4 linked regions of the Homo sapiens genome follow. The protein of the gene in region 1 purifies or fractionates together with the protein of each later gene. This does not show direct contact. Each region holds a gene or a part of one and is shown on either strand. Other genes may lie near its edges.

Region 1 (6,190 bases):
CATCAACACCAGCTGCTGAGGACTGGAGGCTACTGGGTGGCCAGGCAGAGGCTTGGACCTCCTGGAACCGCCATGGTGGCAGTGGGACCCACAGAAGGGGCCAGGTGTATGAGGCTGGAGACTCCACAGCACTTGGTCAGATGGGGACAGGAGGAGAGGGGCTCGCTCTGCCTTGGGTCTAGGGGGCGGCTGGAGGAGAGGAGACAGGCTGGGGAGTCAGCGCAGTGTTGGGGCTCACACAAGGGGGAGCCCAGGGGAGTCAGGAGCACCACAAACAAGGCTCCAGGAGGACAGATGGTGGGAGCACGGCCAGCCTGGGTGGGGACATAAAGGGGTGGCAGGGGGAGGTGGCCAGGGAAGAATCTACATGGCAAGGACTTCCCGGCCCCAGGCCTGGGCTACGCCTCCATGGTGATCGTCTTCTACTGCAACACCTACTACATCATGGTGCTGGCCTGGGGCTTCTATTACCTGGTCAAGTCCTTTACCACCACGCTGCCCTGGGCCACATGTGGCCACACCTGGAACACTCCCGACTGCGTGGAGATCTTCCGCCATGAAGACTGTGCCAATGCCAGCCTGGCCAACCTCACCTGTGACCAGCTTGCTGACCGCCGGTCCCCTGTCATCGAGTTCTGGGAGTGAGTCCGGCACCTCTGGGCCAAGCCCATCCCATCCCCCAGGTCTCCCTCATGTTGCCCGGCTCCAGGGGAGTGGCCCTGAGGGGGCACCAGGGTGTTGCCTGGCAGTCCATCCTGGACCCTGCCTGCCCTTGCCTGTCCTCGGAGAGTCCTGGGGCCAGCCTCGCTCCTGGGTTCGGCAGCCGATCACTGTCCTGGTCACTCCCCCCTGATGGGGGAGCTGGGGCTGCATGTGAGGTGGGATGGGAGTGGCCTCCCAATGGCCAGGGGATCGTGGGCTCCAGGCCCAGCCCAATTGGACAAGAGGGACCCGCTGAACCCTGGGCTGTGGGAGAGAAGGGAGCCACAACTCCTGGGGGTGGACCCTGTGGCTCCATCCTCTGCTGGCACAGGCCTCATGGGACCTCCCTCCCTCCCCTAGGAACAAAGTCTTGAGGCTGTCTGGGGGACTGGAGGTGCCAGGGGCCCTCAACTGGGAGGTGACCCTTTGTCTGCTGGCCTGCTGGGTGCTGGTCTACTTCTGTGTCTGGAAGGGGGTCAAATCCACGGGAAAGGTACCACTAGAGGCATGCAGCGGGGAGGGTGGCTCAGCCCTGGGAGCCGGATGTCTGTGCCAGGCACACCTGTGGCAACGGGAGGTGACCAGACAGAGTCTAGCCCTAAGGAAGGGGGAGGTACTGAAAGCCAAGCAATGCTCCCCACCCTGCAAATCCAGGGCCCAGCAGCCTTTGCTCCTGGGGATAGAGGCCCTGGCAGGCACTGTCCCTTCCCTGTGCCCATCACCCCCACTGGTGCCCTCCTGCCAGTCTCTGACTCTTGTGACAGTCTGGTGGACCTGGTCTGGCCATCTGTTACCTATCTTGCCTTGGGGACCCAGAGCAGAGTCTGGCCACATCCCTTGGGGGCTCCTGGTCAGGCTGGGGAGTCACCTGAACAAAGAAGACAGTGTCTAGAGCTGTGGGACATGGCCAGCTCCCTGGGGGACAAGGTCCCCAGAGCAGCATGTGGGAAGAGGGGGCAGACAGTGTGGCAGCTGCATCTCGCCTGCCTCTGCCTGGCCCAGTTCCACTCTCCACCTGCTCAACCCCCACCTCTCTCCAGAAGAGGAGGGGGACCCGACCCGGATCCAATATCCCGCTCCCTGCCTGGGCCTCCCACACCTGCACTGCCCACACACTCATACAGCTCTCACTCCCCACGTGCTCCACGCCTCCTGTCCCCACTGAGGAGAGCTCCCAGAGGCTCGCCTGCTCCCCACCGACACGCGTCCCTGCAGACAAACGAGGCGCCCAGGGAGCTTCCCCACTGCACTTGGCCAGGGCTGCCGGGGCGCAGCCTTGCCCCTAGCTTCCTCTGGCGGGAGCCATGGCTCGGAGGACAATGGGGACCTCTGAACATACCTGCCCGCAAGGGGGACCGGAGGCGCTGGGAGTGGGGGTGTGAGGGAGGTGGTGCCACAGCCTCCGCTGAGCAGCCTGGCCCCCCAGATCGTGTACTTCACTGCTACATTCCCCTACGTGGTCCTGGTCGTGCTGCTGGTGCGTGGAGTGCTGCTGCCTGGCGCCCTGGATGGCATCATTTACTATCTCAAGCCTGACTGGTCAAAGCTGGGGTCCCCTCAGGTGAGGTGGAGGTGGAGAGGCTGCAGCAGGGCGCTGCGGGGGAGCCCTGCAGGCCCCTCATGCCTGCGCTCTCCGGCCCTTCTCTAGGTGTGGATAGATGCGGGGACCCAGATTTTCTTTTCTTACGCCATTGGCCTGGGGGCCCTCACAGCCCTGGGCAGCTACAACCGCTTCAACAACAACTGCTACAAGTAAGCACCGCCGCCCTGCCACCCGTGCCCTGTCCTGCCCTGCCCCGCCCTGCCCAGCAGCCTAACCCATCCACTCTGGCCCCTCCACCCCTCAGGGACGCCATCATCCTGGCTCTCATCAACAGTGGGACCAGCTTCTTTGCTGGCTTCGTGGTCTTCTCCATCCTGGGCTTCATGGCTGCAGAGCAGGGCGTGCACATCTCCAAGGTGGCAGAGTCAGGTAGGGCCCTACCCCCAGCCCCGCCTCCAGAGCAGCGAGTGCTACCCAGATGCATGATGTACAGGAACATGCAATAGAAATGCTGAAAAGTGACGAGGATTCAAACGGAACTTGTCAGATTGTGGGCCTGTGGGGGCAGGTCCTGGGATTTGTCAATGTTGACAGAGAAAGGACCTCCCAGCCCCTGCCGCACGACCCAGGGTTGACAGCGCCTCTGAGGCAGGCGTGGGCATGGGCGCGAGTGTTGCAGGCAGGGCTCAGGGTGCGCACAGGGCAGGACATCGGCTACAAGGTCTAGAGCCTGCACCTTTCCCACAGGGCCGGGCCTGGCCTTCATCGCCTACCCGCGGGCTGTCACGCTGATGCCAGTGGCCCCACTCTGGGCTGCCCTGTTCTTCTTCATGCTGTTGCTGCTTGGTCTCGACAGCCAGGTTTGCATGGGGCTCTGGGACAGGGAGCCAGGAGGGGGGCGGAGGGAGGGCTGCAGGCAAGGAAAGGGGTGGAGGGCGGTGCGGGGCTCGGCCTGAGCTGCCCTGGCCACAGTTTGTAGGTGTGGAGGGCTTCATCACCGGCCTCCTCGACCTCCTCCCGGCCTCCTACTACTTCCGTTTCCAAAGGGAGATCTCTGTGGCCCTCTGTTGTGCCCTCTGCTTTGTCATCGATCTCTCCATGGTGACTGATGTGAGTGGGGTGGGGGGTCTGCCTGTGACCTCTGGTGGCCGTCTGCCATCCTCCCTGACTGGGCTCTGTCCCCCAGGGCGGGATGTACGTCTTCCAGCTGTTTGACTACTACTCGGCCAGCGGCACCACCCTGCTCTGGCAGGCCTTTTGGGAGTGCGTGGTGGTGGCCTGGGTGTACGGTAGGTCATGGCTGAGGGCTGGGCTGGGGGATGGTGGCGGGGAAGGCAGGTCTCCAGCTTGGCCCTCCCGCCTCACCTCGCCGCAGGAGCTGACCGCTTCATGGACGACATTGCCTGTATGATCGGGTACCGACCTTGCCCCTGGATGAAATGGTGCTGGTCCTTCTTCACCCCGCTGGTCTGCATGGTAAGGGCTGGGGGAGGTGGGGCAGGGCGGGGGGCGAGGCAGGGCGGGGTAGGGGCCCCATTAACCGCAGCATTCTGGTCCGTAGGGCATCTTCATCTTCAACGTTGTGTACTACGAGCCGCTGGTCTACAACAACACCTACGTGTACCCGTGGTGGGGTGAGGCCATGGGCTGGGCCTTCGCCCTGTCCTCCATGCTGTGCGTGCCGCTGCACCTCCTGGGCTGCCTCCTCAGGGCCAAGGGCACCATGGCTGAGGTAAGGCTCCCGCCCGGCCCGCCCTCCCCTCCCCTGCTGTGAACATTCAACCCAGCCTGCTTCCTAGCCAGGGAGTGGCCCCGACTAGGGTGGCAGGCAGTGGGAACCGGAGAGAGGCAGAGGAAGTCACCGTGGGGACGAGCAGGTGACCCTGGGGGCTTCAGCATGTCCTCCTCTCCTGCAGCGCTGGCAGCACCTGACCCAGCCCATCTGGGGCCTCCACCACTTGGAGTACCGAGCTCAGGACGCAGATGTCAGGGGCCTGACCACCCTGACCCCAGTGTCCGAGAGCAGCAAGGTCGTCGTGGTGGAGAGTGTCATGTGACAACTCAGCTCACATCACCAGCTCACCTCTGGTAGCCATAGCAGCCCCTGCTTCAGCCCCACCGCACCCCTCCAGGGGGCCTGCCTTTCCCTGACACTTTTGGGGTCTGCCTGGGGGAGGAGGGGAGAAAGCACCATGAGTGCTCACTAAAACAACTTTTTCCATTTTTAATAAAACGCCAAAAATATCACAACCCACCAAAAATAGATGCCTCTCCCCCTCCAGCCCTAGCCGAGCTGGTCCTAGGCCCCGCCTAGTGCCCCACCCCCACCCACAGTGCTGCACTCCTCCTGCCCCTGCCACGCCCACCCCCTGCCCACCTCTCCAGGCTCTGCTCTGCAGCACACCCGTGGGTGACCCCTCACCCCAGAAGCAGCAGTGGCAGCTTGGGAAATGTGAGGAAGGGAAGGAGGGAGAGACGGGAGGGAGGAGAGAGAGGAGAAGGGAGGCAGGGGAGGGGCAGCAGAACCAAGGCAAATATTTCAGCTGGGCTATACCCCTCTCCCCATCCCTGTTATAGAAGCTTAGAGAGCCAGCCAGCAATGGAACCTTCTGGTTCCTGCGCCAATCGCCACCAGTATCAATTGTGTGAGCTTGGGTGCGAGTGCACGCGTGCGTGAGTACGGAGAGTATATATAGATCTCTATCTCTTAGCAAAGGTGAATGCCAGATGTAAATGGCGCCTCTGGGCAAAGGAGGCTTGTATTTTGCACATTTTATAAAAACTTGAGAGAATGAGATTTCTGCTTGTATATTTCTAAAAAGAGGAAGGAGCCCAAACCATCCTCTCCTTACCACTCCCATCCCTGTGAGCCCTACCTTACCCCTCTGCCCCTAGCCAAGGAGTGTGAATTTATAGATCTAACTTTCATAGGCAAAACAAAAGCTTCGAGCTGTTGCGTGTGTGAGTCTGTTGTGTGGATGTGCGTGTGTGGTCCCCAGCCCCAGACTGGATTGGAAAAGTGCATGGTGGGGGCCTCGGGGCTGTCCCCACGCTGTCCCTTTGCCACAAGTCTGTGGGGCAAGAGGCTGCAATATTCCGTCCTGGGTGTCTGGGCTGCTAACCTGGCCTGCTCAGGCTTCCCACCCTGTGCGGGGCACACCCCCAGGAAGGGACCCTGGACACGGCTCCCACGTCCAGGCTTAAGGTGGATGCACTTCCCGCACCTCCAGTCTTCTGTGTAGCAGCTTTAACCCACGTTTGTCTGTCACGTCCAGTCCCGAGACGGCTGAGTGACCCCAAGAAAGGCTTCCCCGACACCCAGACAGAGGCTGCAGGGCTGGGGCTGGGTGAGGGTGGCGGGCCTGCGGGGACATTCTACTGTGCTAAAAAGCCACTGCAGACATAGCAATAAAAACATGTCATTTTCCAAAGCAGGCTCCTGCTTCCGCCTCTGCTGCTCTAAGGAAGGGGTCGGGGTACAGGAGGCAGGGGGAACCTCCTCCAGCTGGAGCTGCTGCCGTGAGCAAGGCTCTGCTCTGGAGGCCTCTGCGGCCGGCACCCTTCTGGGGACTGGGAAGGGGGCAGGGAAGGCAGCAGCCCAGGGGAAGGCCTTGTCCCCCTGGAGCCGAGGCAGTTGGGGAGAGCAGGACGAGAGTGAGCTGGAGAGCAGCCACACCCGCGGGGAAGGGTGGGCGTAAAGCCATGGGTGCTGAAATTTTCAAAATGTTACCCCAAGAATTTGTCACTGAACAGGTGCCTTGTGTCACTTGGGCCAGGCTGGTAGCAGCAGAGGGGATAACTCTGCATCAGGGATCAATTTTGAAGGTGGAGCCAATAGGGGTTGTGCATGACCAGGATGCAGGGCTCAAAGAGGAGTTAAGGACAACAGATTTGGCCTGAGCAAGAGGAAAGATGGAGCTGCCAGGTCCTGCAATGGGGAGGCAA
Region 2 (7,027 bases), on another chromosome or scaffold:
TTCTTTGTCCTCCATGACATTGATATTTTTGAAGACTGCAGCACAGATAAGTTGTAGACAGCTTTGTATTCTTGGCCCAGGAACCAACAAAAGAAAGTTTTTAAAAAATACTTATTGAAAAATTGGGGGACTGGGTGCGGTGGCTCACGCCTGTAATCCCAGGACTTTGGGAGGCTGAGGTGGGTGGATCACCTGAGGTCAGGAGTTCAAGACCAGCCTGGCCAATGTGGTAAAACCCCACCTCTACTAAAAATACAAAAATTGGCCGGGCATGGTAGCACCCGCTTGTAATGCTAGCTACTTGGGAGACTGAAGCAGTAGAATCGCTTGAACCCGGGAGGAGGAGGTTGCAGTGAACCCAGAGATCAAGCCACTACACTCCAGCCTGGGAGCGAAACTCCATCTCAAAAAAATAAAAATAAAGAATTTGGGGGAGAGTAACTTTCATTCAAAAGGTTCAATATTAGGGCTGGGCACCGTGGCTCACTCCTGTAATCCCACCCAGCACTTTGGGAGGCCGAGGCCGGCAGATCACCTGAGGTCAGGAGTTCAAGACCAGCCTGGCCAACATGGTGAAACTCCGTCTCTACTAAATGTACAAAAAACTAGCCAGGCGTGGTGGAGAGTGCCTGTAATCCCAGCTACTTGGGAGGCTGAGGCAGGAGAATCGCTTGAACCTGGGAAGTGGAGGTGGCAGTGAGCCAAGACCATGCCATTGCATTCCAGCCTGGGTGACTGAGCAAGACTCTGTCTCAAAAAAAAGTTCAATATAGGAAAGAAATATGGTTTTTAGAAAAAGAACACATACTTTGACTTACAGACTTAGATTTAAATCACAGTTCTGCTACTTAGGAGTAGTGTGGCTTTGGGCAAGTTACTTTATCTTCCTGACTCTCAATTTCCTCAGCTCTAAAAGGGTATACATAAAACATTGGCGTGAAGAAATGAGAATAATGTATGTAAACAGAGCAGCACATGATATATATGTGATGAATGGTAACTGACAATATTCGCTTTGGTATAACCTCGCCTAAGTCATGTGAGGATGACTGCTCTTGTCATGTTTGAGGGTTAAATACTTCTGTAGCCCTAGTCCACAGAACATGGAAATGGAGAAAAAGCCAGAGTCAGAACAAGGAAATCAATTGGTTGTCACATTATTTCCTTGCATGTAAATAGCACCTAAGAATTCCTTGCATTTTGTAAGTGCCTAAAAATCTTAACAAGGATATGGAGACCCCTCTAAGTGTTTGTCCCCATATTCAAGTTCTGCAGTATTTGATACTTTCCATTTGCTGTTCACTTTCCAAACTTAATAACTAGGTACGCAATGCTAATGTTCAAGAAATCATTTACTAAGGGACAGCTTAGTATTTGTCCATCAGTTGGCTTATTGACGTAACCTGTGTGCTAAATTCACTGGAATGTGGCGTAATCAAATCTGGCTCCTTCCACTTCTGAGTTGGTGCAAGAAACACTTGGCAGCTATTAAAGTGCTATTCTTTGCAGTTATTTGGTATAATTTGCCACAGAAGTAAATTCCAGGAGGTAATATTCTTGCTAGGTTACACCCTGTTACCTCCTGACTTAAGGAGTTCATGCTAAGGGCAATGATCTCTATCTAACTCAAGGTGATTCTCTTGGCAGCCGGGAAGATTTCCAGAGGATTCCAGAACTTGCCATCAACCCACTGGGGGACCGGATCATCAATGCCTTCTTTCCAGAGGGGTGAGTCAGTACAGTTGTTGGACTTCCTTCCTGAGGCTATCACAACCTAAATTATTTGCTAATCTGGAATAATGATATTGGTTGTGCCATCTCAGACTGTGATACCCCCTGATTATATTGAGCAATTCTAATTTTGTCATTTCTAGAATATCTCTTCTGTTCTACCCTCCTGTGTGTTTTAAACTTCAAATAGATATATGAGCCTATCTTCAAAATTCTTATGTTTATCATTGATGTAAAACTAGACTTTTAAAAAATGTTTATTTGGAAATAATTTCAAATTTACAAAAAAGTTGCAAAAGTTAAAAGTAATTCGGAGAATACTTGTATATTTATTGCCCTGATGCATCTACTGTTATATTGTTAACATTTTGCCTCATTTGTGTGCTCTCTTCTTAGTAGTAGCCAATAAAAATATAATGCAAGCCACATACGTAATTTTACATTTTCTAGTAACCACATTTAAAAAGTAAAAATAAGTTAACTTTGGTAATATATATTTTATTTAATATATTTAAAATATTATTTCCATATATAATCAATATTAAAAATAACTGAGATCCTTTTTTCGTTTGTTTGTTTGTTTTAAGACAGAGTCTTGCTCGGTCGCTCAGGCTGGAGTACAGTGGTGCCATCTCGGCTCACTGCAACCTCTGCCTCCCGGGTTCAAGCGATTCTCCTGCCTCAGCCTCCGAGATAGTTGGGATTACAGCCACATGCCACCATACCTGGCTAATTTTTGTATTTTTAGTAGAGACAGGGTTTCACCATGTTGGCCAGGCTGGTCTTGAGCTCCTGACCTCAGGTGATCCGCCTGCCTCAGCCTCCCAAAGTACTGGGATTACTGGCGTGAGCCACCATGCCCAGCCTACATTTTTTCATAATAAGTCCTTGAAATCCAGTGTGTAATTTACACTTAAACACATATCAAGTCAGACTGACCATGTTTTCAGTGCACATAACCAGATGTGACAAGTGACTGCAGTATTGAACAGCGCAGCTTGTACACCCGTGCTTACTCTACATACCCTCTCTTGCAGACACTTTTTCCCTCTCTCTTTCCCCTCTCTCTACCTACACATACTCTACGTGTGTGTGTATATACATACATACATGCCTACATGTACGTACATACATACACATACATACATGTATGTATATACACATACTTATGTAATTTTTTTGTGTATGTGTGTTCACATAATTGTATTTCTGAACTATTTCAGGGTAAGTTGCATAGTAATGACCCTTTACCTCTGAATGCACCAGTGTGTGTTTGCTAAGAATAGGGACATTCTTTTACATATCCATAGTATAGTTATCTACTTCAGTAAACTTAACATTGATACAATCCTCTTATCTAATCTATTACTCTGTTTTATTAACATATTATCCAGTTTATTCTAATTTATATTCATATTCCAATTTTGTCATCCAATAATCTGTTTTATAGCACTTCCCCGCCTCCAGTACAGGATCTAGTCTGGGTCAGTTGTCATGTCTCTTTAGCCTCCTTTAATCTGGAACATTTCCCCAGCCTTTATTTTACTTTCGTGATATTGAATAAACATAGTTCTCACCACATATGCTTTGTCAAGTAGATTGTTCTTAATGTGGGTTTTTCTAACATGAAACTAGTCTTTTGATATGCTTTACTACCTAATACACTGCCTTCACAGTAGTGAGTAAATATTTACTGATTTGATTAGGTACCTTTTCAACAATAAAACTTACATATAAGCTTGTTTTAAGTAATTTCCTAAACAATCTATTCCTGGTTTATATGGATAGTCTATGACCCACAGGACTTCAAAATATTATATGGGTGCCAGTTTTTAATAATGAGACTGTCAATGAGGACACTGTCAGATAAAATGCCTGGAGAGGAAATTTTAGAACTCTAAATTGAGAGCAAAGGAATTTGCTAGTTGAGAGGGTTGGGCATTCAGGAAATGTGAGTGAAAGTCAGAAGGGGAATTAGGTCGGGCAGTTAGTTCATGTAAAGATGGGAATCAAATCACGTTGACTATGAGGAATCTTATGCCCTCTTTCATTTTTTCCTTTCTCTCTCCTTGAACTGCCCTGTTTGTTTCAGGTGTGGTTTTTATGCTGAATTCTTCCTTTTTTCTAATTCCTCTTTTACCCCTGCAAAGCATTGAACCCTATCCAGAGATAACTTTCACAGCTATGCTTTGTATCCAAACCTTTTGCAATGAAAAGTAAACCCAGGAGAGTCACTTTGCCAACTTTTTTTCAGAATTCCTTAGTCACCATTGATTACTTGAAGAAGCAGCTTGTGGGAAGCTGTTTTGTAAGACTAAACTACATTTGCTGTGACTACAATATCACCTGTCATTCTGTCCACCAATCTACTGCTAAGGAAATGGGACAGAGTGCATATGAGGAAGTGGAGGGCTCTACTGGGCTGCACTGCTTAGCTCTTAGCAAGCTGCGACTCTGCTTCTTGCTCTAATCAGATAGATATATTTGGCTTCTGGGTTTTTCTTTCTTCCCTAGGCATATGCACATTGGGGCTTTTTTTTTTTTTTTTTTAAAGAATGAGATTTGAAAGTGGACCATGGTTATTCAATTCCCTTTTACCCAGAAACTTTATGCTAGCAATAATCATTAATGTGTTTTTTCTAGCATATGTTTTAAACTTTACTCCACATTACTTGATTCCTCAGATCTGACATTTTTGACCAGATACTGGTCCATTAGCAGTATAGATACATCGAAGAACTAAAAGGTCATTCTTTTGTTTTGTTTTTTGTTTTTTTGAGACGGAGTCTCCCTCTGTCTCCCAGGCTGGCATGCAGTGGTGTGATCTTGGCTCACCGCAACCTCTGCCTCCTGGGTTCGAGTGATTCTCCTGCCTCAGCCTCCCCAAGTAGCTGGGACTACAGGCTCACGCCACCACGCCTGGCTAAGGTTTCACCACGTTGGCCAGGCTGGTTTTGAACTCTTGACCTCAGGTGATCCGCCCGCCCCGGCCTCCCAGAGTGCTGGGATTATGGGCGTGAGCCACTGCACCCAGCCAAGGTCATTCTTTTGAGTACAGATGGCTCACAGGCTAGCCTTTGAACTCTGCCTTTAGAAGGGCTATGAACTGCATGTCTATAGAGCACAGAAGAGAACCTACATACCTCAGCTATTCGGTGGGGCACAGAAAGGCTGGGGTTTTTTTTTTTTTTAGGTAACCACAGGAACCAGGCCATCTGCCTTAGATAAATAAATTATATTATGTTACATGGGGCATTCTTTTTTAATATTAAAGAACATTCTTCATTCAAGTTTTGAGAATTATTTCTTACAGGGTTATTGATTAGCCTGTGGCACAATGAAAAGATTTTCTCCAAGCTTAAGTACCAAAAAGGCTTTATACACAAGAGGTCTTTCAAAACTTTTTTTTTTTTTTTTTTGAGATGGAGTCTCCCTCTGTCACCCAGGCTGGAGTGCAGTGGTGCAGTCTCGACTCATTGCACCCTCCATCTTTGGGGTTCAAGTGATTCTCCTGCCTCAGGCTCTCAAGTAGCTGGGATTACAGGCATGCACCACCAGGCCCAGCTAATTTTTGTATTTTTAGTAGAGACGGGGTTTCACCATGTTGGCCAGGCTGGTCTTGAACTCCTGACCTCAGGTGATCCACCCACCTTGGCCTCTTGAAGTGCTGGGATTATAGACGTGAGCCACTGTGCCTGGCCTAAAAGATTATTTAGAGAAAAATTATCCAATTATGAGGGAATAATAAAATCATGATGTGTCCACAGAATTATGCATATGTTTTAAATGTTTCAAAGTATTTATATTGATTGGAGAAATGCTTAAAAGTTAAAAAAAAAGGCAGGATACTAATACAGTTATCTGAAAAGCATAGAAAAGTTACTAGAAGAAAATGCATTCATATATATATGAGGGAGTCTTGCACCGTCACCTGGGCTGGAGTGCAGTGGCGCAGTCTCGGCTCACGCAACTTCTGCCTCCTGTGTGTTCAAGTGATTCTCCCACCTCAGCCTCCCAAATAACTGGCAGTATAAGCGTGAGCCACCATGCCTGGCTGATTGATTGATTGATTAATTGATTGATTCCTTCCTTCCTTCCTTTCCTCCCTCCCTTCCTTCCTTTTCCTTTCCTTTTCCTTCCTTTTCCTTTCCTTTCCCTTTCCTTTCCTTTTCTTTTTTTTTGACATAGTCTTGCTGTGTCACCCAGGCTGGAGTGCAGTGGTGCAATCTAGGCTCACTGCAGCCTCTGCCTCCCAGTTTCAAGCGATTCTCCTGCCTCACCCTCCCGAGTAGCTGGGATTACAGGTGCCCACTACCACGTCCAGCTAATTTTTTTGTATTTTTAGTAGAGACAGGGTTTTACCATGTTGGTCAGGCTGGTCTCAACTCCTGGCCTCAAGTGATCTGCCTGCCTCAGCCTCCCAAAGTATTAGGATGATGGGCATGGACCACCGTGCCCAGCCAGAAAATATATTTATATTAACTGTGGTTGTAATTGGTAGAACTCGGATCAGTATTTTTCTATCTACTTTTCTTTTTTCCACATTTTCAAATTTATGTTTGCTTTTATAATTAAATAAACTTGGCTGGGCATGGTGGCTCATGCCTGTAATCCCAGCACTTTGGGAGGCCGAGGTGGGCAGATCATGAGGTCAGGAGATTGAGACGATCCTAGCTAACACGGTGAAACCCTGTCTGTACTAAAAATACAAAAAATTAGGCTGGGTGCAGCAGCTCACACCTGTAATCCCACCACTTGGGAGGCTGAGGCGGGCAGATCACCTGAGGTCGGGAGTTCGAGACTAGCCTGACCAACATGGAGAAACCCCGTCTCTACTAAAAATATAAAATTAGCTGAGCGTGGTGGCGCATGCCTGTAATCCCAGCTACTCCAGAGGCTGGGGCAGGAGAATCGCTTGAACCAGGGAGGCGGAGGTTGCAGTGAGCTGAGATCGCGCCATTGCATTCCAGCCTGGGCAACAAGAGCAAAACTCCATCTCAAAAAAAAAAAAAAAAAATACAAAAAATTAGCCGGGCATGGTGGCGGGCGTCTGTAGTTCCAGCTAGTCAGGAGGCTAAGGCAGGAGAATTGCTTGAACCCGGGAGGCGGAGGTTGCAGTGAGCCGAGGTAGTGCCACTGCATTCCAGCCTGGATGCAAGACTCTGTCTCAAAATAAATAAATAAAGCAAGACTTTATTTATTTATAAGCAGAGCAAGACTCTGTCTCAAAATAAATAAATAAATAAGAAAAATTAAAAATTAAATAAACTTTATTTTAAAAGCGGCCTTTCCATAA
Region 3 (7,315 bases), on another chromosome or scaffold:
CTGTAATCCCAGCTACTCAGGAGGTTGAGGCAGGAGAATCACTTGAACCTGGGAGGCAGAGGTTGCAGTGAGCTGAGATCGTGCCACTGCACTCCAGCCTGGGCAACAGAGCGAGATTCCATCTCAAAAACAAACAAACAAACAACAACAACAAAAACCCAATGGTCATCTCAAGTCCTATGGCTGGCCAGAGTATGATATGTTTAAGCAGCTGAAAGAAGACCAATGTGGTCTTCTCACAAAGGAGTGAAAAATCACCAGATTCTAAGGTTTGAAAGGACCAATTTCAGTTTAAAAACTGACATTAGTAGAGCAATTCATTTCCAAATGACCTAGAACACTTCTACTGCACCTTGCACTGTCTCTTTGTAAATATCCATCACATTGGTCATTGTTTACTGTCTGTCTTCTATTCCAGGTATGCGTTTCAAGAACAAAGACTAAATCTGTCTTGTTAATAATTATATCCTACAACTCAGGACTTGCTTGGTGCATTGCAAGTCTTCTTTAAATATATTTAAAATGAGTAACTTTGTAGAGCCATATATCATTTTTATGTTTGTTTCTTGGTTAAACTATCTTAAGGTTTTATTCTCATTTATGTGAGGTATTTTTTCTTTTCATTCCCTCAATAAATAATGACCACTAAATATTTGACAGTATAGCACCAGGTAGTAGGAGCTGGAAAAATGAAACAACTCCCAGTTCCTGAGGAGTACCAGTCTAGTGGGAAGACAGACTTGCAAACAATAGAAGATAGTATGATTATTGCTAAAATGAAATTATGTACAAAATACAAGTGAGTCCTCATAGACCCAAGTGTAAGAGCTAAAACCATAAAACTCTTAGAAGAAAACACAGGAGTAAATCTTTGGAATCTTGGGTTAGGCACTGATTTCTTATATAGGACAACAATAGCAAGTGATTAAAGAGAAAACAGGTAAGTTGGACTTTGCTGAATTAAAAACTTTTGTGCTTCAAAGAAAACCATCAAGAAAGTAAAAAGACAGACTGAAAGAAAATATTTTCAAATCATATATCTGCTAAGATCTAGAATCTATCTTTTATTTTTTAAAATAAATTACAGAACAACATGGACATATAGAATAGATATTTTTAAACCCTTACAACTCAATAAACTTTAAAAAATTAATCCAACTTAGAAATGATAAAGGATTTGAATAGACATTTCTACAAAAAAAGATATACAGATGGCTTCTGAGCACCTGATAAGGCTAGTAGTCAATATCATTAGTGCTCAGGGAAATGCAAAGCAAAATCACAATGAGATATTACTTCACACCCACTAGGACAGATAAGATTAAAAGACAGAAAATAAAAGTATTGGCAAGGATGGGAAGAAATTGGAACCTCTACACATTGCTAATAGGATGGGAAATAGTGCATTCACTTTGGAAATTAGTGTGAGAGTTCCTCAAAACGTCAAACATAAAGTTGCCTTATGATCAGCAATTCCACTGCTAGGTATATACCCAAAGGAATTGAGTTCAAACAAAAACTTGTACACAAATGTTCATCAACTGATGAATAAGATGTGCTATAGCCATACAATGGAATATTATTTGGCCATAAAAAGGAGTGAAGTACTGATACATGTTACAACATCGATGAACCTTGGAAACATTATCTTCAGTGAAAGAAGTCAGTCACAAAAGATCATGATTCTATTTACATGTAATGTCCAAGCTGGCCATGGTGGTTCACACCTGTAATCCCAGCACTTTGGGAGGTGGGAGAATTTCTTGAGGCCAGGAGTCCAAGGTTGCAGTGAGCTATGATCATGCCACTGTACACCAGCCTAGGCAACAGAGCAAGACCCCATCTCAAAAAAAGAAAGAAAAGAAACAAAGAAAGAACAAAAAGAAATGTCCACAATAAGCAAATATAGAGAGGTAGAAAATAGGTCAGTTGTTGCCAAGGGCTGCCAAGACTATGAGGGGAAATGGAGAGTTACTGGTAATGTGTATAAGGTTTCTTTTAGAGATTACAAGAATGTTCTAAAGTTATATTATGGTGATTGTTGCACAACTTTGCAAACATACTAAAAACCACAGAATTGAATATCTCAAATAGCTGAACTATATGACATAAATTATACTGCAATAAAACTATTTCAAAAATGCAATTGAATCATAAAAGATAAATTGCTTAGGTCACAGAATTCAGTGAAGCTTTCGAAGAGGTCATGTGTAAATGAGACATGAAGGAACAGCAGGAGCCTGCTGTGTCTATGAAAGGACAGGAGAAAACATTCCAGACAGAGACAGCAGTACACGCAAAGGCAGGGGAGAGCATGGGAAGAGAGCATGTCATGGCATGTACAGTCGTCCCTCAGTCTTCACAGGGGACTGGTTCCAGGGCCCCCGCGGATACCGAAATCCACCCATGCTCAGGTGCCTTATATAAGATGATGCAATATTCTGGTAAAGAATATCCTAAATCCTCCCACAGACCTCCAATCATTTCTAGATTACTTATAATAACACAACATAACTGCTAAATAAATAGTTGGCTGTACTATATTATTTAGGGAATAATCATGGGGGGGTAGTCTGTAGATGTTCAGTACAAATGCAGTTTTTTTCTTGAATATCTTTTACTCCAGGTTGGTTGAATCCACAGTGTATGCGGCACCCACAGATATGGAGAGGCAACTGTATAGTGTGTGTAGTCAATAATGCTGGTACAGAGATTATGGCCTGTAGATGCAGGGCTCCAGTCTGTTGGGGTAGGCAAGGACCAAATCAGAAAGGGCTATTTCATCATGCTAGCTTTCCATGAAGGGAAAGGGAACCCGCTGAAAAACTTTCTGCCAGTAGAAGCATCATTCTAGTATAAACGTTGAAAGGTGATCTGAAGGGAAATGAAACTAGTGATTGCCCAGAAGGAGGAAAAGAATAATCCCTGACTAAATTTATAAAGCCCTTACTCCCCGCTAAGCAGTTTCCTTCAATCATCTCATTTAATCACTAAAATGAGCAATAGTTATCCCCACTTTATAGATGATATCCACAGGGCTTGCTCCCTCACCTCCTGCAGGTCTTCAGGCAAGTATAAGTGCCTCGCACTTTCCTATTCCCCTTGCTTTATTTTTCTCCTGGTTGCTCAACTCAATTTAACATCTGTTTCGCTTTTGAAATCTTGTTTAAAGATTCTCTCCCACACTAGAATGATAAGTCCCTAGGAATAATTTAATTTGTATTTCAGTTCTGTATCCCCAGTGCCCAGGACACAGTCAACCCTCAGTAAGTACATAAATGAATACATTTTTAAAAATGAGGAAATCGGGTCCCATAGAGATTAAGTAACTTGTCCTTGATCGTACAAGTAATAAGTGGCAGAATTCTGATTTAACAACCCACATTCTTAAACCACTAAGTGGTTACACCAGAGTTGTAATATTGTAGGCAAGAGGCAAGTACCCTCGGACTGCGGTAGTGGGGAAGCGGGGTGATAGGTCTGCCTCGAATTGGTGATGACTGGATGTGGAAGGGCGCTGAAAGGGCTCAATCTAGCATGACTTTGGTTTCTACATTTGGCTTATGGGTAAACAGGAGAGCAATTCTTCAGGAAAAAGAATACAAAGGACTCCAGGTTTGGGCAAAACGATAAGAGGAGGACGTGTCTTAATCCACGATCCTTTTTAACTCTTTTACTATTTCCCTTAGATTACTAAAACATGTTGTTAATTTGAATATATGTGAAGCCAGTAAACCCAAACTGATCCCTTCGTCTTCAGTCTGAGGCCAGTGGGGGATAGGGGTGGGGATGGGGACGGGGATGGGGGTGGGGACGGAGAGGCAGACCAGAATAGGGTCAGCTCTTTTTTTTTTTTTAAGTTAGTCCAAACTTACCAAGAGTAGAAATAAGTCCCCAGCAGTGCTTAACTCTGAGGTAATTTTTAAGGCAGATGCTAAAACTGGAGAATACACCGTACCCTTGTGGAGTCAGGTAGTATTCGTAGTTTTAGATTATCCTGACGGTGTTAGTCACTTGTAGAAGTGACAATGTGCAACAGGCCACTGACACCCAATCCCTGGATGGCCAGGAGGGCAGGAGGGCACCCGGCCGCGGCCTCAGGCTGCTGAGCAGGCGCAGGAAGCTCGCGCCTCAAACGACTCCCAAACCCGGGCCCGGCGCGAAGCAGGGAAGCGCCGCTCACATTCCTGCACGCTCGCCCGGCCGCGGGCCAGCGGCCTCCGGTCCCCAGGTGGCGCTGTGGGCTCGCGGAGGCGGCCGCGGCACCAGGGAGCGTCGTCTCCCTGGTGCGCATGCTCGCCCCCGCTGCGGGCTAGCTGTTGTGTTTTTTTTTTTCCCCCGGGCGGCCCGGCGGCTGCGTACTGGCTGTGGGATGGGAAGTGAAGCCCCAGCGAGCGGCTGCAGCGGGGCCGTGAGGAGCAGCCAGCGGGAGGCGGCGGCGAGTCGGTGAGCAGCTGGGAAGAGCAGAACCGGGGCGGAGCACCTGCAGGCGCGGGCGGCGGCCCCACCATGGCGATTCGCAAGAAAAGCACCAAGAGCCCCCCAGTGCTGAGCCACGAATTCGTCCTGCAGAATCACGCGGACATCGTCTCCTGTGTGGCGATGGTCTTCCTGCTGGGGCTCATGTTTGAGGTGAGCCCGCCCCGAGTCCCAACCGCCTGCCCCGCCACCTCCAGCCCGGGCCCGGGCTCCAGATGCCAGCCCCGGCTTCTCCGCCCAGGACGCGGGGGGCTCGGGCCCGGGGTGGGTGCAGACCCCCAGTCCCTGAGGTGCAGGCCTTCCCTGCCCTGCCCCACGTCGGCGGCAGCTCCCCGGCGGCCGGCCCGGAGATGCAAAGTCCCGGTGGGCCTCATCGCGGCCCGCAGGGGGTGGGGACCGCCGCGTCGCCCCCTTCCTGACCCGCCGCCGCCCCCTCCCGCAGGCTGCGCGGCGCAGTTCCTGGTTCCCGCGAAGGGTTACGTGGCAGCCGGCGAGGGGCCTGCGGGCGGGGGCGGCCCCTGCGCTGCCGAGCTGGCTCGGGGCGGGTGGGCGGACTTGGGGGGACTGCCAGCCTCGGCCGCGGTGAGCGTCAGCCCCGCGAGGGCCGGGGAAGGCCGAGGCCCGGCCCCCGGGTCTGAGGAGTGCCGGCCTGGAGACCACAGGCCCCGAGTGACAGGGGAGCCCCCGGTAGCTCCGAGATTGGGGTGAGCGAGAAACCGGAGTCAGGCATCTGCTTTCGACTTGAAGGGCGGTGGCCGCCGGGCACCGGCGCAGTGGAGGCGCGCCAGATTGTTTTCATTTTTGTCTTTTAAACTGATATTATTACCAGTTAACGAACTTTTTGCCCTGACGCTTTAAAGAAACAAGGTCTGATGGATAAATCGAGGTTCTGAACAGCGGTGCCAAGGAATCGAGTAATTTTGTTTCTTGAAGTAGGAGAGGATGGGAATGTCAGGAGTGTGTAAATTCTCTTCCCACGTATCTAGTATTTTGATGACTTATTTAACAGCTGTTGAATGTGGATGATAAACTTTGCAAGGTGAACGAGTAACATCCTACGTTTTTCCCCTCGCTCCCCAATACACACGCTCATTCCTTTGCTTTTTTCCCTTTTTAATTTTTCTCTGGAGCCTTTATGTCTCAGTAAATATACAAATTATTTTGCTCCTGCCTTGTTTTGTCTCCTCTCTCCTGCATGTAACAAGTGAGAGTAGAGATTTTGGAGTATTTTTACGAGTCTGTATTTCCAGAGTCTAGGATAGTGCCTGGGACATAGGAGTGCTTAAAAAAAGATGAGCGACGTTAAGAATCCTTGAGAAAACCTAATGGAATGATATTACCAGTGACCAAAAGGTGAATACATTTTCTTTTTAATGGAGCATATTTGTTTTTTTTTTTAATTTTAAAATTAAATAATATTTTAACCTTATTTTCGCCTCTCATCAAATGGGCTTTTCTGGATCTAGATACAGATATTATTTACTCCTGATTGTGTCATGCATGTTTGAAACCACTGCTAAGGAGGTAGCAGGTATAGTTAAAGGGTAGGTAGAAGGAAACTAACATTCTCAAGCTTTAAGTCTGGGCTGTGCCACCTACCTACTGGGTGACCCAAGTCTGAGCCTCAATTTTTCTGCTCTTTATCAGGAAATAATATCACCTGTACTGTTCTCCTCACAGCCATTTTTTGCAAGTATCAGATGATATGGTGTGAAGGTAAATACAGTGCTAGGCCTGGTGCTCTGGCTTATGCCTGTAAACATCCCAACACTTTGGGAGGCCAAGGCAGGAGAATCACTGGAGCCCAGGAGTTCGAGACCAGCCTAGGCAACATAGGGAGACCCTGTCTCTACAAATGATTTTTTAAAAATTAGCCAGGAGTGATAGATAGCACGCACCTGTGGTCTCAGCTGGGCGGCTGAGGTGGGATAATTACTTGAGCCCAGGAGGTGGAGGCTGCGGTGAGCCAAGGTTTCACCACTGCACTCCAGCCTGAAGGACAGAGCAAGAAGACCCTGTCTCAAAAAAAACCCAATGTTAAACATTTGTATTCACTTTCTGAATTTGATACTTGCATGTACTTTCTGCTTTGACCTTAAAGTAGTACTTTAATATATGTAGTATATTCAATTTTCTGTAACTTGTCATAAACCATCTCCACATGGTAAGAATTCCTGACTTTAAAAACATATTTTAGGGGTACTGTGACCTGCAAGGTATATTTGCAGTGCTTTGAATGAAATGAAATATAAATCAGAAATTCTGACACATAGTATAACTTTGATTTTATATAAACTATTTTACATTCTCTTACTATATTTCTAGGGAAGTCCACCACCTATACCTTGCCTCACATGTTAGTGATTTTTTTAAACAGTGGATTTTCACCTTTATATAAATTTATAAAATTTGAAAATCTAAATAGACAAAAATACTAAATAGAGGTTTTTAAGTCAATTCAAAAGTGAGTGTTAAAGTGATACACAAAAGTGAAGTTTGTGCGAGTTCTTCCTTTTTCTTACCATATATTAAGGTGTTAGGATTTCAAAGCATGTTATCTATATATAGGACTTTGTAGACTAGGTTAGTTTTGCTATTCGACTTTTAAAACAATTGCTGCTGAATCTCAAAGTTAACATAATTATAGAATTACAGTACTTGTGCTAGAATAATAGAGAAATTGATTTTTTTTTGCAGAACTGTTAAGCCTGTTGTGCAGATACATTGAGGAAATGTCAGAGGATTTATGGTGACATTGACAAAGAAATTCAGAAAGAAAGAAATACTGTATTACTAGCCAAAATGAAGAAGCAATGGAGATACACTGTAAAAGCAT
Region 4 (7,027 bases), on another chromosome or scaffold:
TTTTCTTATAAAAAATATTTTACCATTATAAAATTCTGGAACAAATAATGAAAATATACATCAGACAGAAGAAGACTGGGGAGAATTTCCCACACTATGGAGAGAACATGATTTACTATTTTGGGAAGGTTATAAAGAACTGGAAGGAATAAAAAAATGTAAAGTGGCACTGATTTAAATCTAACTGTAATAAACTCTAAGTCTCCTAACAGCTCTGAAGGAGTGCTTGCTATTTTAAAAGATTAATAACTCTCTGAATTCCTGGTAAAAGAAAGCAGAACTAAAGTAGGACTTAAACCAAAGAATAAGATGCCCTGGTAGGGGAGGATAGCATCTGGGGCAAAGCAAAAGCAGGCCACTGCTGGCCCATGTGGAGAGCAGTAAAAAAGTAGCCACTTTGATTTAGAGAAGGGGGTCAGAAGGCAGAGCAGTGGATGGATGGATGGCTGCTGTGGAAGGCATAAAATAATATTAAGACATGGCCTTGCTAAGTAGTCTGTGGGTAGATACCAAAGGGCTTTTTGTTTGTTGGCTTTTGTATGGAAAAAAACTATATAACAGAATTTCCTAATGCAAATGGTGGGGAAGATGCAAGTCATCACAAGGAAAGAGTTAGTGCATGTCTAGAATACAGTAGTGCCCCCTTATCTGTGGTTTCGCTTTCCAGGGTTTCAGTTACCTGCAGTCAACCATGGTCTGAAAATATTACATGGAACATTCCAGAAATAAACAGTTCATAAATTTTAAATTACACCCTGTTCTGAGTAGTGTGATAAAATCTTGTGAGGTTCTGCTCTGGTCCATCCAGGACTTGAATCATCCCTTTGTCCAGCATATCCACACTGTCTACACTACATGCCTGTTAGTAACTTAGTAGCCATCTAGATCAAAAAAACATAGAACATAAAGGATTTGGTAATATCTGAGGTTTCAGGCATCCACAGGGGTCTTCGAACTTATCCCCCATGGATAAGGGGGGACTACTGTACAAGAAGAATGGATTTGAACTTCAGACTGGTTAAATGAGACATAGTGAGGAACAAGGACAGCTGCCTTTGGAGATAAGATAGTGACTTTAGCCATTCTCTCCTAATCTGCCCATTCCCTTCCTTCCTTTTCTGACTAATTTGATGCCTTTGCTTCCAACCATTAAAGAAAAAAATAAAAAAATCAGAGTTGAGGATTAAGAAGCTCTCAATAACTTTCATCCAAATTCTTTAATCATCTGAACTTCCATTCTTTCCTGTCTCTTCCTTTATACAAGGCTAATACTCACCCCTTTGCCCCGACTTTTGCTCTTAAGTAGTGCTGTCCAACATAACTTTCTGCAATGATGAAAATGTTCTATATTGGCACTAACACGGTAGCCACTAGCACATGTGACTATTGAGCAAGTGAAATGCTACCAAAGCAATTGAGAAATTGAATTTTAAATTTCATTTAACTTTAATTAATTTAAATAGCCACATATGGCTAGCGGCTACTCTGACCTACCTAGAACCCCCTTCTGCATTCTCTAGAACCTTCTCTGACCTATAATCAACTTCTCCCTTTCCACTGTATACCCTCCCCTCCCTTTAACTTCTTTCCCTCTAATCTTTTAAAATTTAAAGAGTATACTCTACAAAGGTCCATAATCCCTTATCCAAACCTTGGGGTCAGGTATGTTTCACTATTCAAAGTTTCTGAGGTTTTAGAAAAATACTACAGTAAATACCCCTTATATTACTTAATATCCATCCATTCAGAGGTTTAGGACAGGAATGAGTAAGCAAACACATTAATATTTCTATAATGAAATAAAGGAAAAATCTTATCTGGCAAAGTAAATAAAGTCTACGTTTATATAACTTATGTGAATTTAGGTCAGGGTATTCTGCTAAATGAATTCAGGTCAGATTTTATTACCAGTTTAATTATTAAAAAACAAAAACAGGCCGGGGGCAGTGGCTCACACCTGTAATCCCAGCACTTTGGGAGGCCGAGGCGGGCGGATCACGAGGTCAGGAGATCAAGACCATCCTGGCCAACACAGTGAAACCCCATCTCTACTAAAAATACAAAAAATTAGCCGAGCGTGGTGGCGGGCACCTGCAGTCCCAGCTACTCAGGAGACTGAGGCAGAATGGCGTGAAGCTGGGGGGGCGGAGGTTGCAGTGAGCCGAGATCGCACCACTACAGTCCAGACTGGGCGACAGAGCAAGACTCCATCTCAAAAAAAAAAAAAAAAACAAAAAACAAAAAAAAACTTGGCTTAAACCTTTTTGAATTTCAGGATTTTAGATAAAGAATTACAGACCTGTATTTCCCGTTTCTAATTCCTCATCTTTTACTGCCGACTAGACTGAAGGAAAGAAACTAATGTTTTTTGAGTCTATTATTTGCCAGACATTGCCTCTGATTATTTCCTCTAATTCCAACAGTTCATTAAGAGAGGTAGTATCATCTCCATTCAACTGATCAAGAAACTGAAAGGATCATAAAGTAGTTATAATAATATTACTACATTATTATAATGTAGTAGTAGTATTACAAGGTCACATAGCTAGCAAATGTCAATCATGATTCAAATCCAAGCCTTAATACAAAATTGATGTTGTTGCACTTACATGTGTGATCTTCAAAGCTAGTATTTACAAACTTCACAAAGCATTTTCACATGGATTTTCTCACTTGACAACAGTTCTTTCTTGTATTACAGACAGGGAAGCTGAAAGCCTTTAAAACCCAGCCTATCAAATGTAACCTTTTTATACCTTTCCTGGAGCTCTACTTCCTGAGACACGATTTATCATTTCTTCTTCACTATTCCACTAAGCTTGCCTTAGTATTTTCAATTACTGGGACATACTAGTAATTCATCCTTGTATTTCTATATCTTCTAACAGACTGAAAGTTTTTCAGGGACAAGAACCAAGTGTTATTCATCTTCTTCCACGTCTAGCAGAGTCCTTGACACCTACTGGTCCTCAAGAAAAGTTGAATGAATGAAGAAACAAATGAACAAACATGCTGAGTTTAGGTTGATGATTGATGGTAGAACACACAGGTGATATCCAGCAGAAAAGGTCATCAAATAAAGTTTATACATACGTTGGACCATAAAATGTTGAAATTCATTTCAAGAGAAGTTTCTACCTTGGACAATATGATCAGTAATACCAGTGGGAGCAGATTCATTCATAGAAGAACTGAATGGAATTGGCTCATAATGAGGAAGCATTTCTATGTTGTCTGCTGCTGGGGATGTCACAAAAGATGATTGACCACTCACACTTGAGTCATATTTTGACTTTTGATAATAGTGCCTGTAAATGAAAATCATATTGTAGTAAGAAATATGAGTCATTGCCTATATCTTAAAGAAGTGTTAAAATAACTTCTTTCATATAGCTTATTTCCAAAATTATATATACATATAATTTTTTTTATTTTTTTGAGACAGGGTCTTGCTCTGTCACCCAGGCTATAGTGCAGTGACGCAGTCTTGGCTTATTGCAATCTCCACCTCCTAGGCTCAAGCAATCCTCCTACCCCTCAGCTTCCCAAGTAGCTGGGACTACAGGCATGCGCCACCACTTGGTTTTTTGTAGAGATGAGGTCTCACTATATTGCCCTGGCTGGTCTCAAACTACTGGGCTCAAGCAACCCTCCTGCCTCAGCTTCCCAAAGTGCTGGGATTACTGGCATGAGCCACCGCGTCTGGCCTCAAAATAATTTTTAACGCAGTTATTTATAATCAGTAAAATGAGGTCTGTTTCTTTCTGCCAACAAAACACTTTTAAAAAGTCCTGACCCACTTATACATCTTAAAAGCAGTCACTGTCAGTATAGAAAAATAGGAAATGTATACCCAGCCTTTCAAGATAATTTTAGTATGTTTGAAAGTTCTTGGAAAGAAAAAGCACTTTAAATCAGGTCTAATTTCAATAACCATGCCCGTTTCCCATGTCAATTGAGAAGGTAATATCACAGCTAAGAATCTATATAAACACTAATTTGCTAAAGCAGATACAAATTCTCTCTCATGGGGATTATATTGCTTGCCTATCTGTTTAAGAAGCATTAAAATGAAAAGCTGAAATCTGTTAAGAGATGGGATTGATAAGATTTGGGAATTCAAAAGAAAAGTCCAAACTATAGTAACCAAAGGTGTTTGCCAAATTGAATCGAGATAAAATCCTTTATTCTAGAACATGTACTCCCAATAGGACACAACTCTATATTTACAACAATGAAGGCCAGATGCAGTGGCTCACGCCTGTAATCCCAGCACTTTGGGAGGCCAAGTGGGGCAGATCACTTGAGCTCAGGAGTTTGAGACCAGCCTGGTAAACACAGTAAAACCCTGTCTCTTCAAAAAATACAAAAAATTAGCTAGGCGTGGTGGTGTATGCCTGTGGTCTCAGCTACTCCAGAGGCTGAGGGAGGAGGATCACTTGAGCCCAGGAGGCAGAGGTTGCAGTGAGCCGAGATCACGCCACTGTACTCCTAGCCTGGGAGCCAGAGTGAAACTCTGTCTCAAAACAAAACAAAACAAAAATGAAGAACCAGGCACAGTGGTTCACACCTGTAATCTCAACAATTTGGGAAGCCAAAGCAGGAGGACTGATTGAGCCCACTAGTTCAACACCAGCCTGGGCAACATAGTGAGACCCCCATCTCCATAAAAAAAATTTTTTTTTAATTAGCTGGGTGCAGTGGCTGACACCTGTATTCCTAGCTACTCAGAGAGCTTGAGGCAGTGGGGCCTTGTGAACCCAGGAGTTTGAGGCTGCAGTGAGCTAGGATCATGCCATTGTACTCCAGCCTGCGCAACAGAGGGAGATCCCATCATTCATTCATTCATTCATAAATAAATAAATGGTGGCAAGTCTTGCTCCAATTTTTGAAGCAAATTACTTTTAGCCTACAGCAAATGGCAAGTATCCAGTGGTCCTTCAGGCAATGTTTTTGAGCCATGAGTTATAGCAACATCTAGTTGTTTCTTAAAAATTAAAAATCTTAAGTAAAGATCAGAATCTGGCCTACCCAGGTGGTGAAGATCGTCGTGCTTGTCCTGATCGTAAAGCTTCTCCAAGGGGGGAATTTTCAAGTTTCTTGAATTTCTCTTGGCAAGTTTTCACATAAGAAAGTTTTCCAGCAAAGTATCCCATGATACAAGCAACTTATTTGTAAAATCAAACAAAAAGTGTAACTGAATGTGCCTTTCAGACAAAAGTATTTTCTAAAAGAAAAATTTGTTTTAAAGTGTGATTCTAAATAAGTCTTTGGTTTAGAAAGACTGAGATTTCCTGAAATAATGGTAGAAGAAATCAAAATTAAATCAGATCAGAGTTCATATACAGAGTCTATGGATATAATTCAGTTTCCAAAAAAAGTGTGCCAAAATAAAGCTGCTATAAATAAATCAATTATAGTATACTAATTACTTTATAATATATACAGGAAAGATTTAGTAAAGGTATAATGGGAAGAGGAATGGATAAGGAATAAAAGCATCAAAACATTTATTTATTTCTAGTTCTAAATAAACAGAACTAGATCACAAGGATTTAGGCCATTATTTTCCTATAAAACAGAATATCATATGCACAGCCATTTTCACAAGATTGTTTTAAAGTAAAATTAGGTGCAACAAATCCCTTAAAGTAATAAATTACGAACCATAACCTAAACGTGGCACTTACTGCATCACATGAGTTTCAAATAGAAAAGAAAGGCTAACCTGAAAGACTCATGAAAAGCCTCAGGTACTTCTTTTGAAGAGCAATGTAGCTTCTTTTTCTTTTATTTATTTATTTATTTACTTATTTTTTATTATACTTTAAGTTCTAGGGTACATGTGCATAATGTGCAGGTTTGTTACATATGTATACATGTGCCACGTTGGTGTGCTGCACCCATTAACTCGTCGTTTACATTAGGTATATCTCCTAATTCTATCCCTCCCCACTCCCGTCACCCCACAACAGGCCCCGGTGTGTGATGTTCCCCTTCCTGTGTCCACGTGTTCTCATTGTTCGATTCCCACCTATGAGTGAGAACATGCGGTGTTTGGTTTTCTGTCCTTGTGATAGTTTGCTGATAATAATGGTTCCCAGCTTCATCCATGTCCCTACAGAGGACATGAACTCATCCTTTTTTATGGCTGCATAGTATTCCATGGTGTATATGTGCCACATTTTCTTAATCCAGTCTATCATTGATGGGCAATGTAGCTTCTTTTTCTATTAACTATATTGCAATGTGTAAATAAGTTATGCTTATTTACATTTTAAAATACAAATTAGAGAGATTTCTTTTAAAAATTAAGCTTAATTTTAAATATACTTTATTTTGATTAATCAGAATATCTTCATAACTTTGTTTCCCCATAGACAGACCAAAAATTTATTTTCAAATACTTTATCCTTACAAAATAATTTTAAATTAATTGTTCTATTACATTATAAAGACACAAAAAAATGCCTATTTCAACTGATGATTTTTTATGCTAACAATAAAATATCCAAGTAATCCACTTAATGAAATGCTTTAACAAACTGATTTATCAGAGCATGTAACCACATAACTAATATGAGTAAGACATGATAAAACATTTGATAAAAATAATTTTATTTAAGTTTTAAAAAGCTATGAAAACTACAATGTTGTTCATACTTACGTATAAGTTTAGGGATGGAACCATATTTGGGATGACTTGAAAGTATTCCTAAAGAAAAGAGTTAAGTATTTCTGAGTAACACTGTTACAGAAAGAAAAATCAGTAAAGGCTATCTTTAAATATAATCTTACAACATTAGCTCCTTCCATGATCCTACAGAACCCTAGACTGTTTAATAGGGAAAACCAAATGAATTCAGTATCAAGAGAAATATGACGAAAATCCAAAAGACTCTACAAAGTATTAGAACAGGTAAATTTAGAAAGATCACTTGATGTAAGGTCAATAGACCAAATATATATGTGTGTGTGTATGAAAAACTGTTTATACCAACAACAAACAAAAAAACAAACATTTTTT

The links.
Region 2: the proteins of SLC6A8 (region 1) and CHP1 purify together in Homo sapiens (affinity purification with mass spectrometry; 2 studies listed by BioGRID and IntAct, with this or other methods). This does not show direct contact.
Region 3: the proteins of SLC6A8 (region 1) and TRAM1 purify together in Homo sapiens (affinity purification with mass spectrometry; 2 studies listed by BioGRID and IntAct, with this or other methods). This does not show direct contact.
Region 4: the proteins of SLC6A8 (region 1) and OCIAD1 purify together in Homo sapiens (co-immunoprecipitation; 3 studies listed by BioGRID and IntAct, with this or other methods). This does not show direct contact.

What each region holds. Positions count from the first base shown.
Region 1 is NC_000023.11:153,690,913-153,697,102, forward strand, and holds the end of SLC6A8 (sodium- and chloride-dependent creatine transporter 1), read left to right. Parts: intron 1-391; coding exon 392-641; intron 642-1,062; coding exon 1,063-1,195; intron 1,196-2,128; coding exon 2,129-2,263; intron 2,264-2,350; coding exon 2,351-2,454; intron 2,455-2,549; coding exon 2,550-2,674; intron 2,675-2,992; coding exon 2,993-3,105; intron 3,106-3,217; coding exon 3,218-3,355; intron 3,356-3,431; coding exon 3,432-3,534; intron 3,535-3,620; coding exon 3,621-3,721; intron 3,722-3,806; coding exon 3,807-3,977; intron 3,978-4,161; coding exon 4,162-4,302; 3' UTR 4,303-5,676; downstream 5,677-6,190. UniProt on the Homo sapiens protein: Creatine:sodium symporter which mediates the uptake of creatine. Plays an important role in supplying creatine to the brain via the blood-brain barrier.
Region 2 is NC_000015.10:41,255,263-41,262,289, forward strand, and holds part of CHP1 (calcineurin B homologous protein 1), read left to right. Parts: intron 1-1,437; exon of another isoform or gene 1,438-1,548; intron 1,549-1,647; coding exon 1,648-1,728; intron 1,729-7,027. UniProt on the Homo sapiens protein: Calcium-binding protein involved in different processes such as regulation of vesicular trafficking, plasma membrane Na(+)/H(+) exchanger and gene transcription. Involved in the constitutive exocytic membrane traffic.
Region 3 is NC_000008.11:70,605,394-70,612,708, reverse strand, and holds the start of TRAM1 (translocating chain-associated membrane protein 1), read left to right. Parts: upstream 1-4,292; 5' UTR 4,293-4,509; coding exon 4,510-4,632; intron 4,633-5,039; exon of another isoform or gene 5,040-5,832; intron 5,833-7,315. UniProt on the Homo sapiens protein: Involved in the translocation of nascent protein chains into or through the endoplasmic reticulum (ER) membrane by facilitating the proper chain positioning at the SEC61 channel.
Region 4 is NC_000004.12:48,848,087-48,855,113, reverse strand, and holds part of OCIAD1 (OCIA domain-containing protein 1), read right to left. Parts: intron 6,716-7,027; coding exon 6,668-6,715; intron 5,168-6,667; coding exon 5,032-5,167; intron 3,309-5,031; coding exon 3,139-3,308; coding exon of another isoform or gene 3,122-3,138; exon of another isoform or gene 2,889-3,121; intron 1-2,888. UniProt on the Homo sapiens protein: Maintains stem cell potency. Increases STAT3 phosphorylation and controls ERK phosphorylation. May act as a scaffold, increasing STAT3 recruitment onto endosomes. Involved in integrin-mediated cancer cell adhesion and colony formation in ovarian cancer.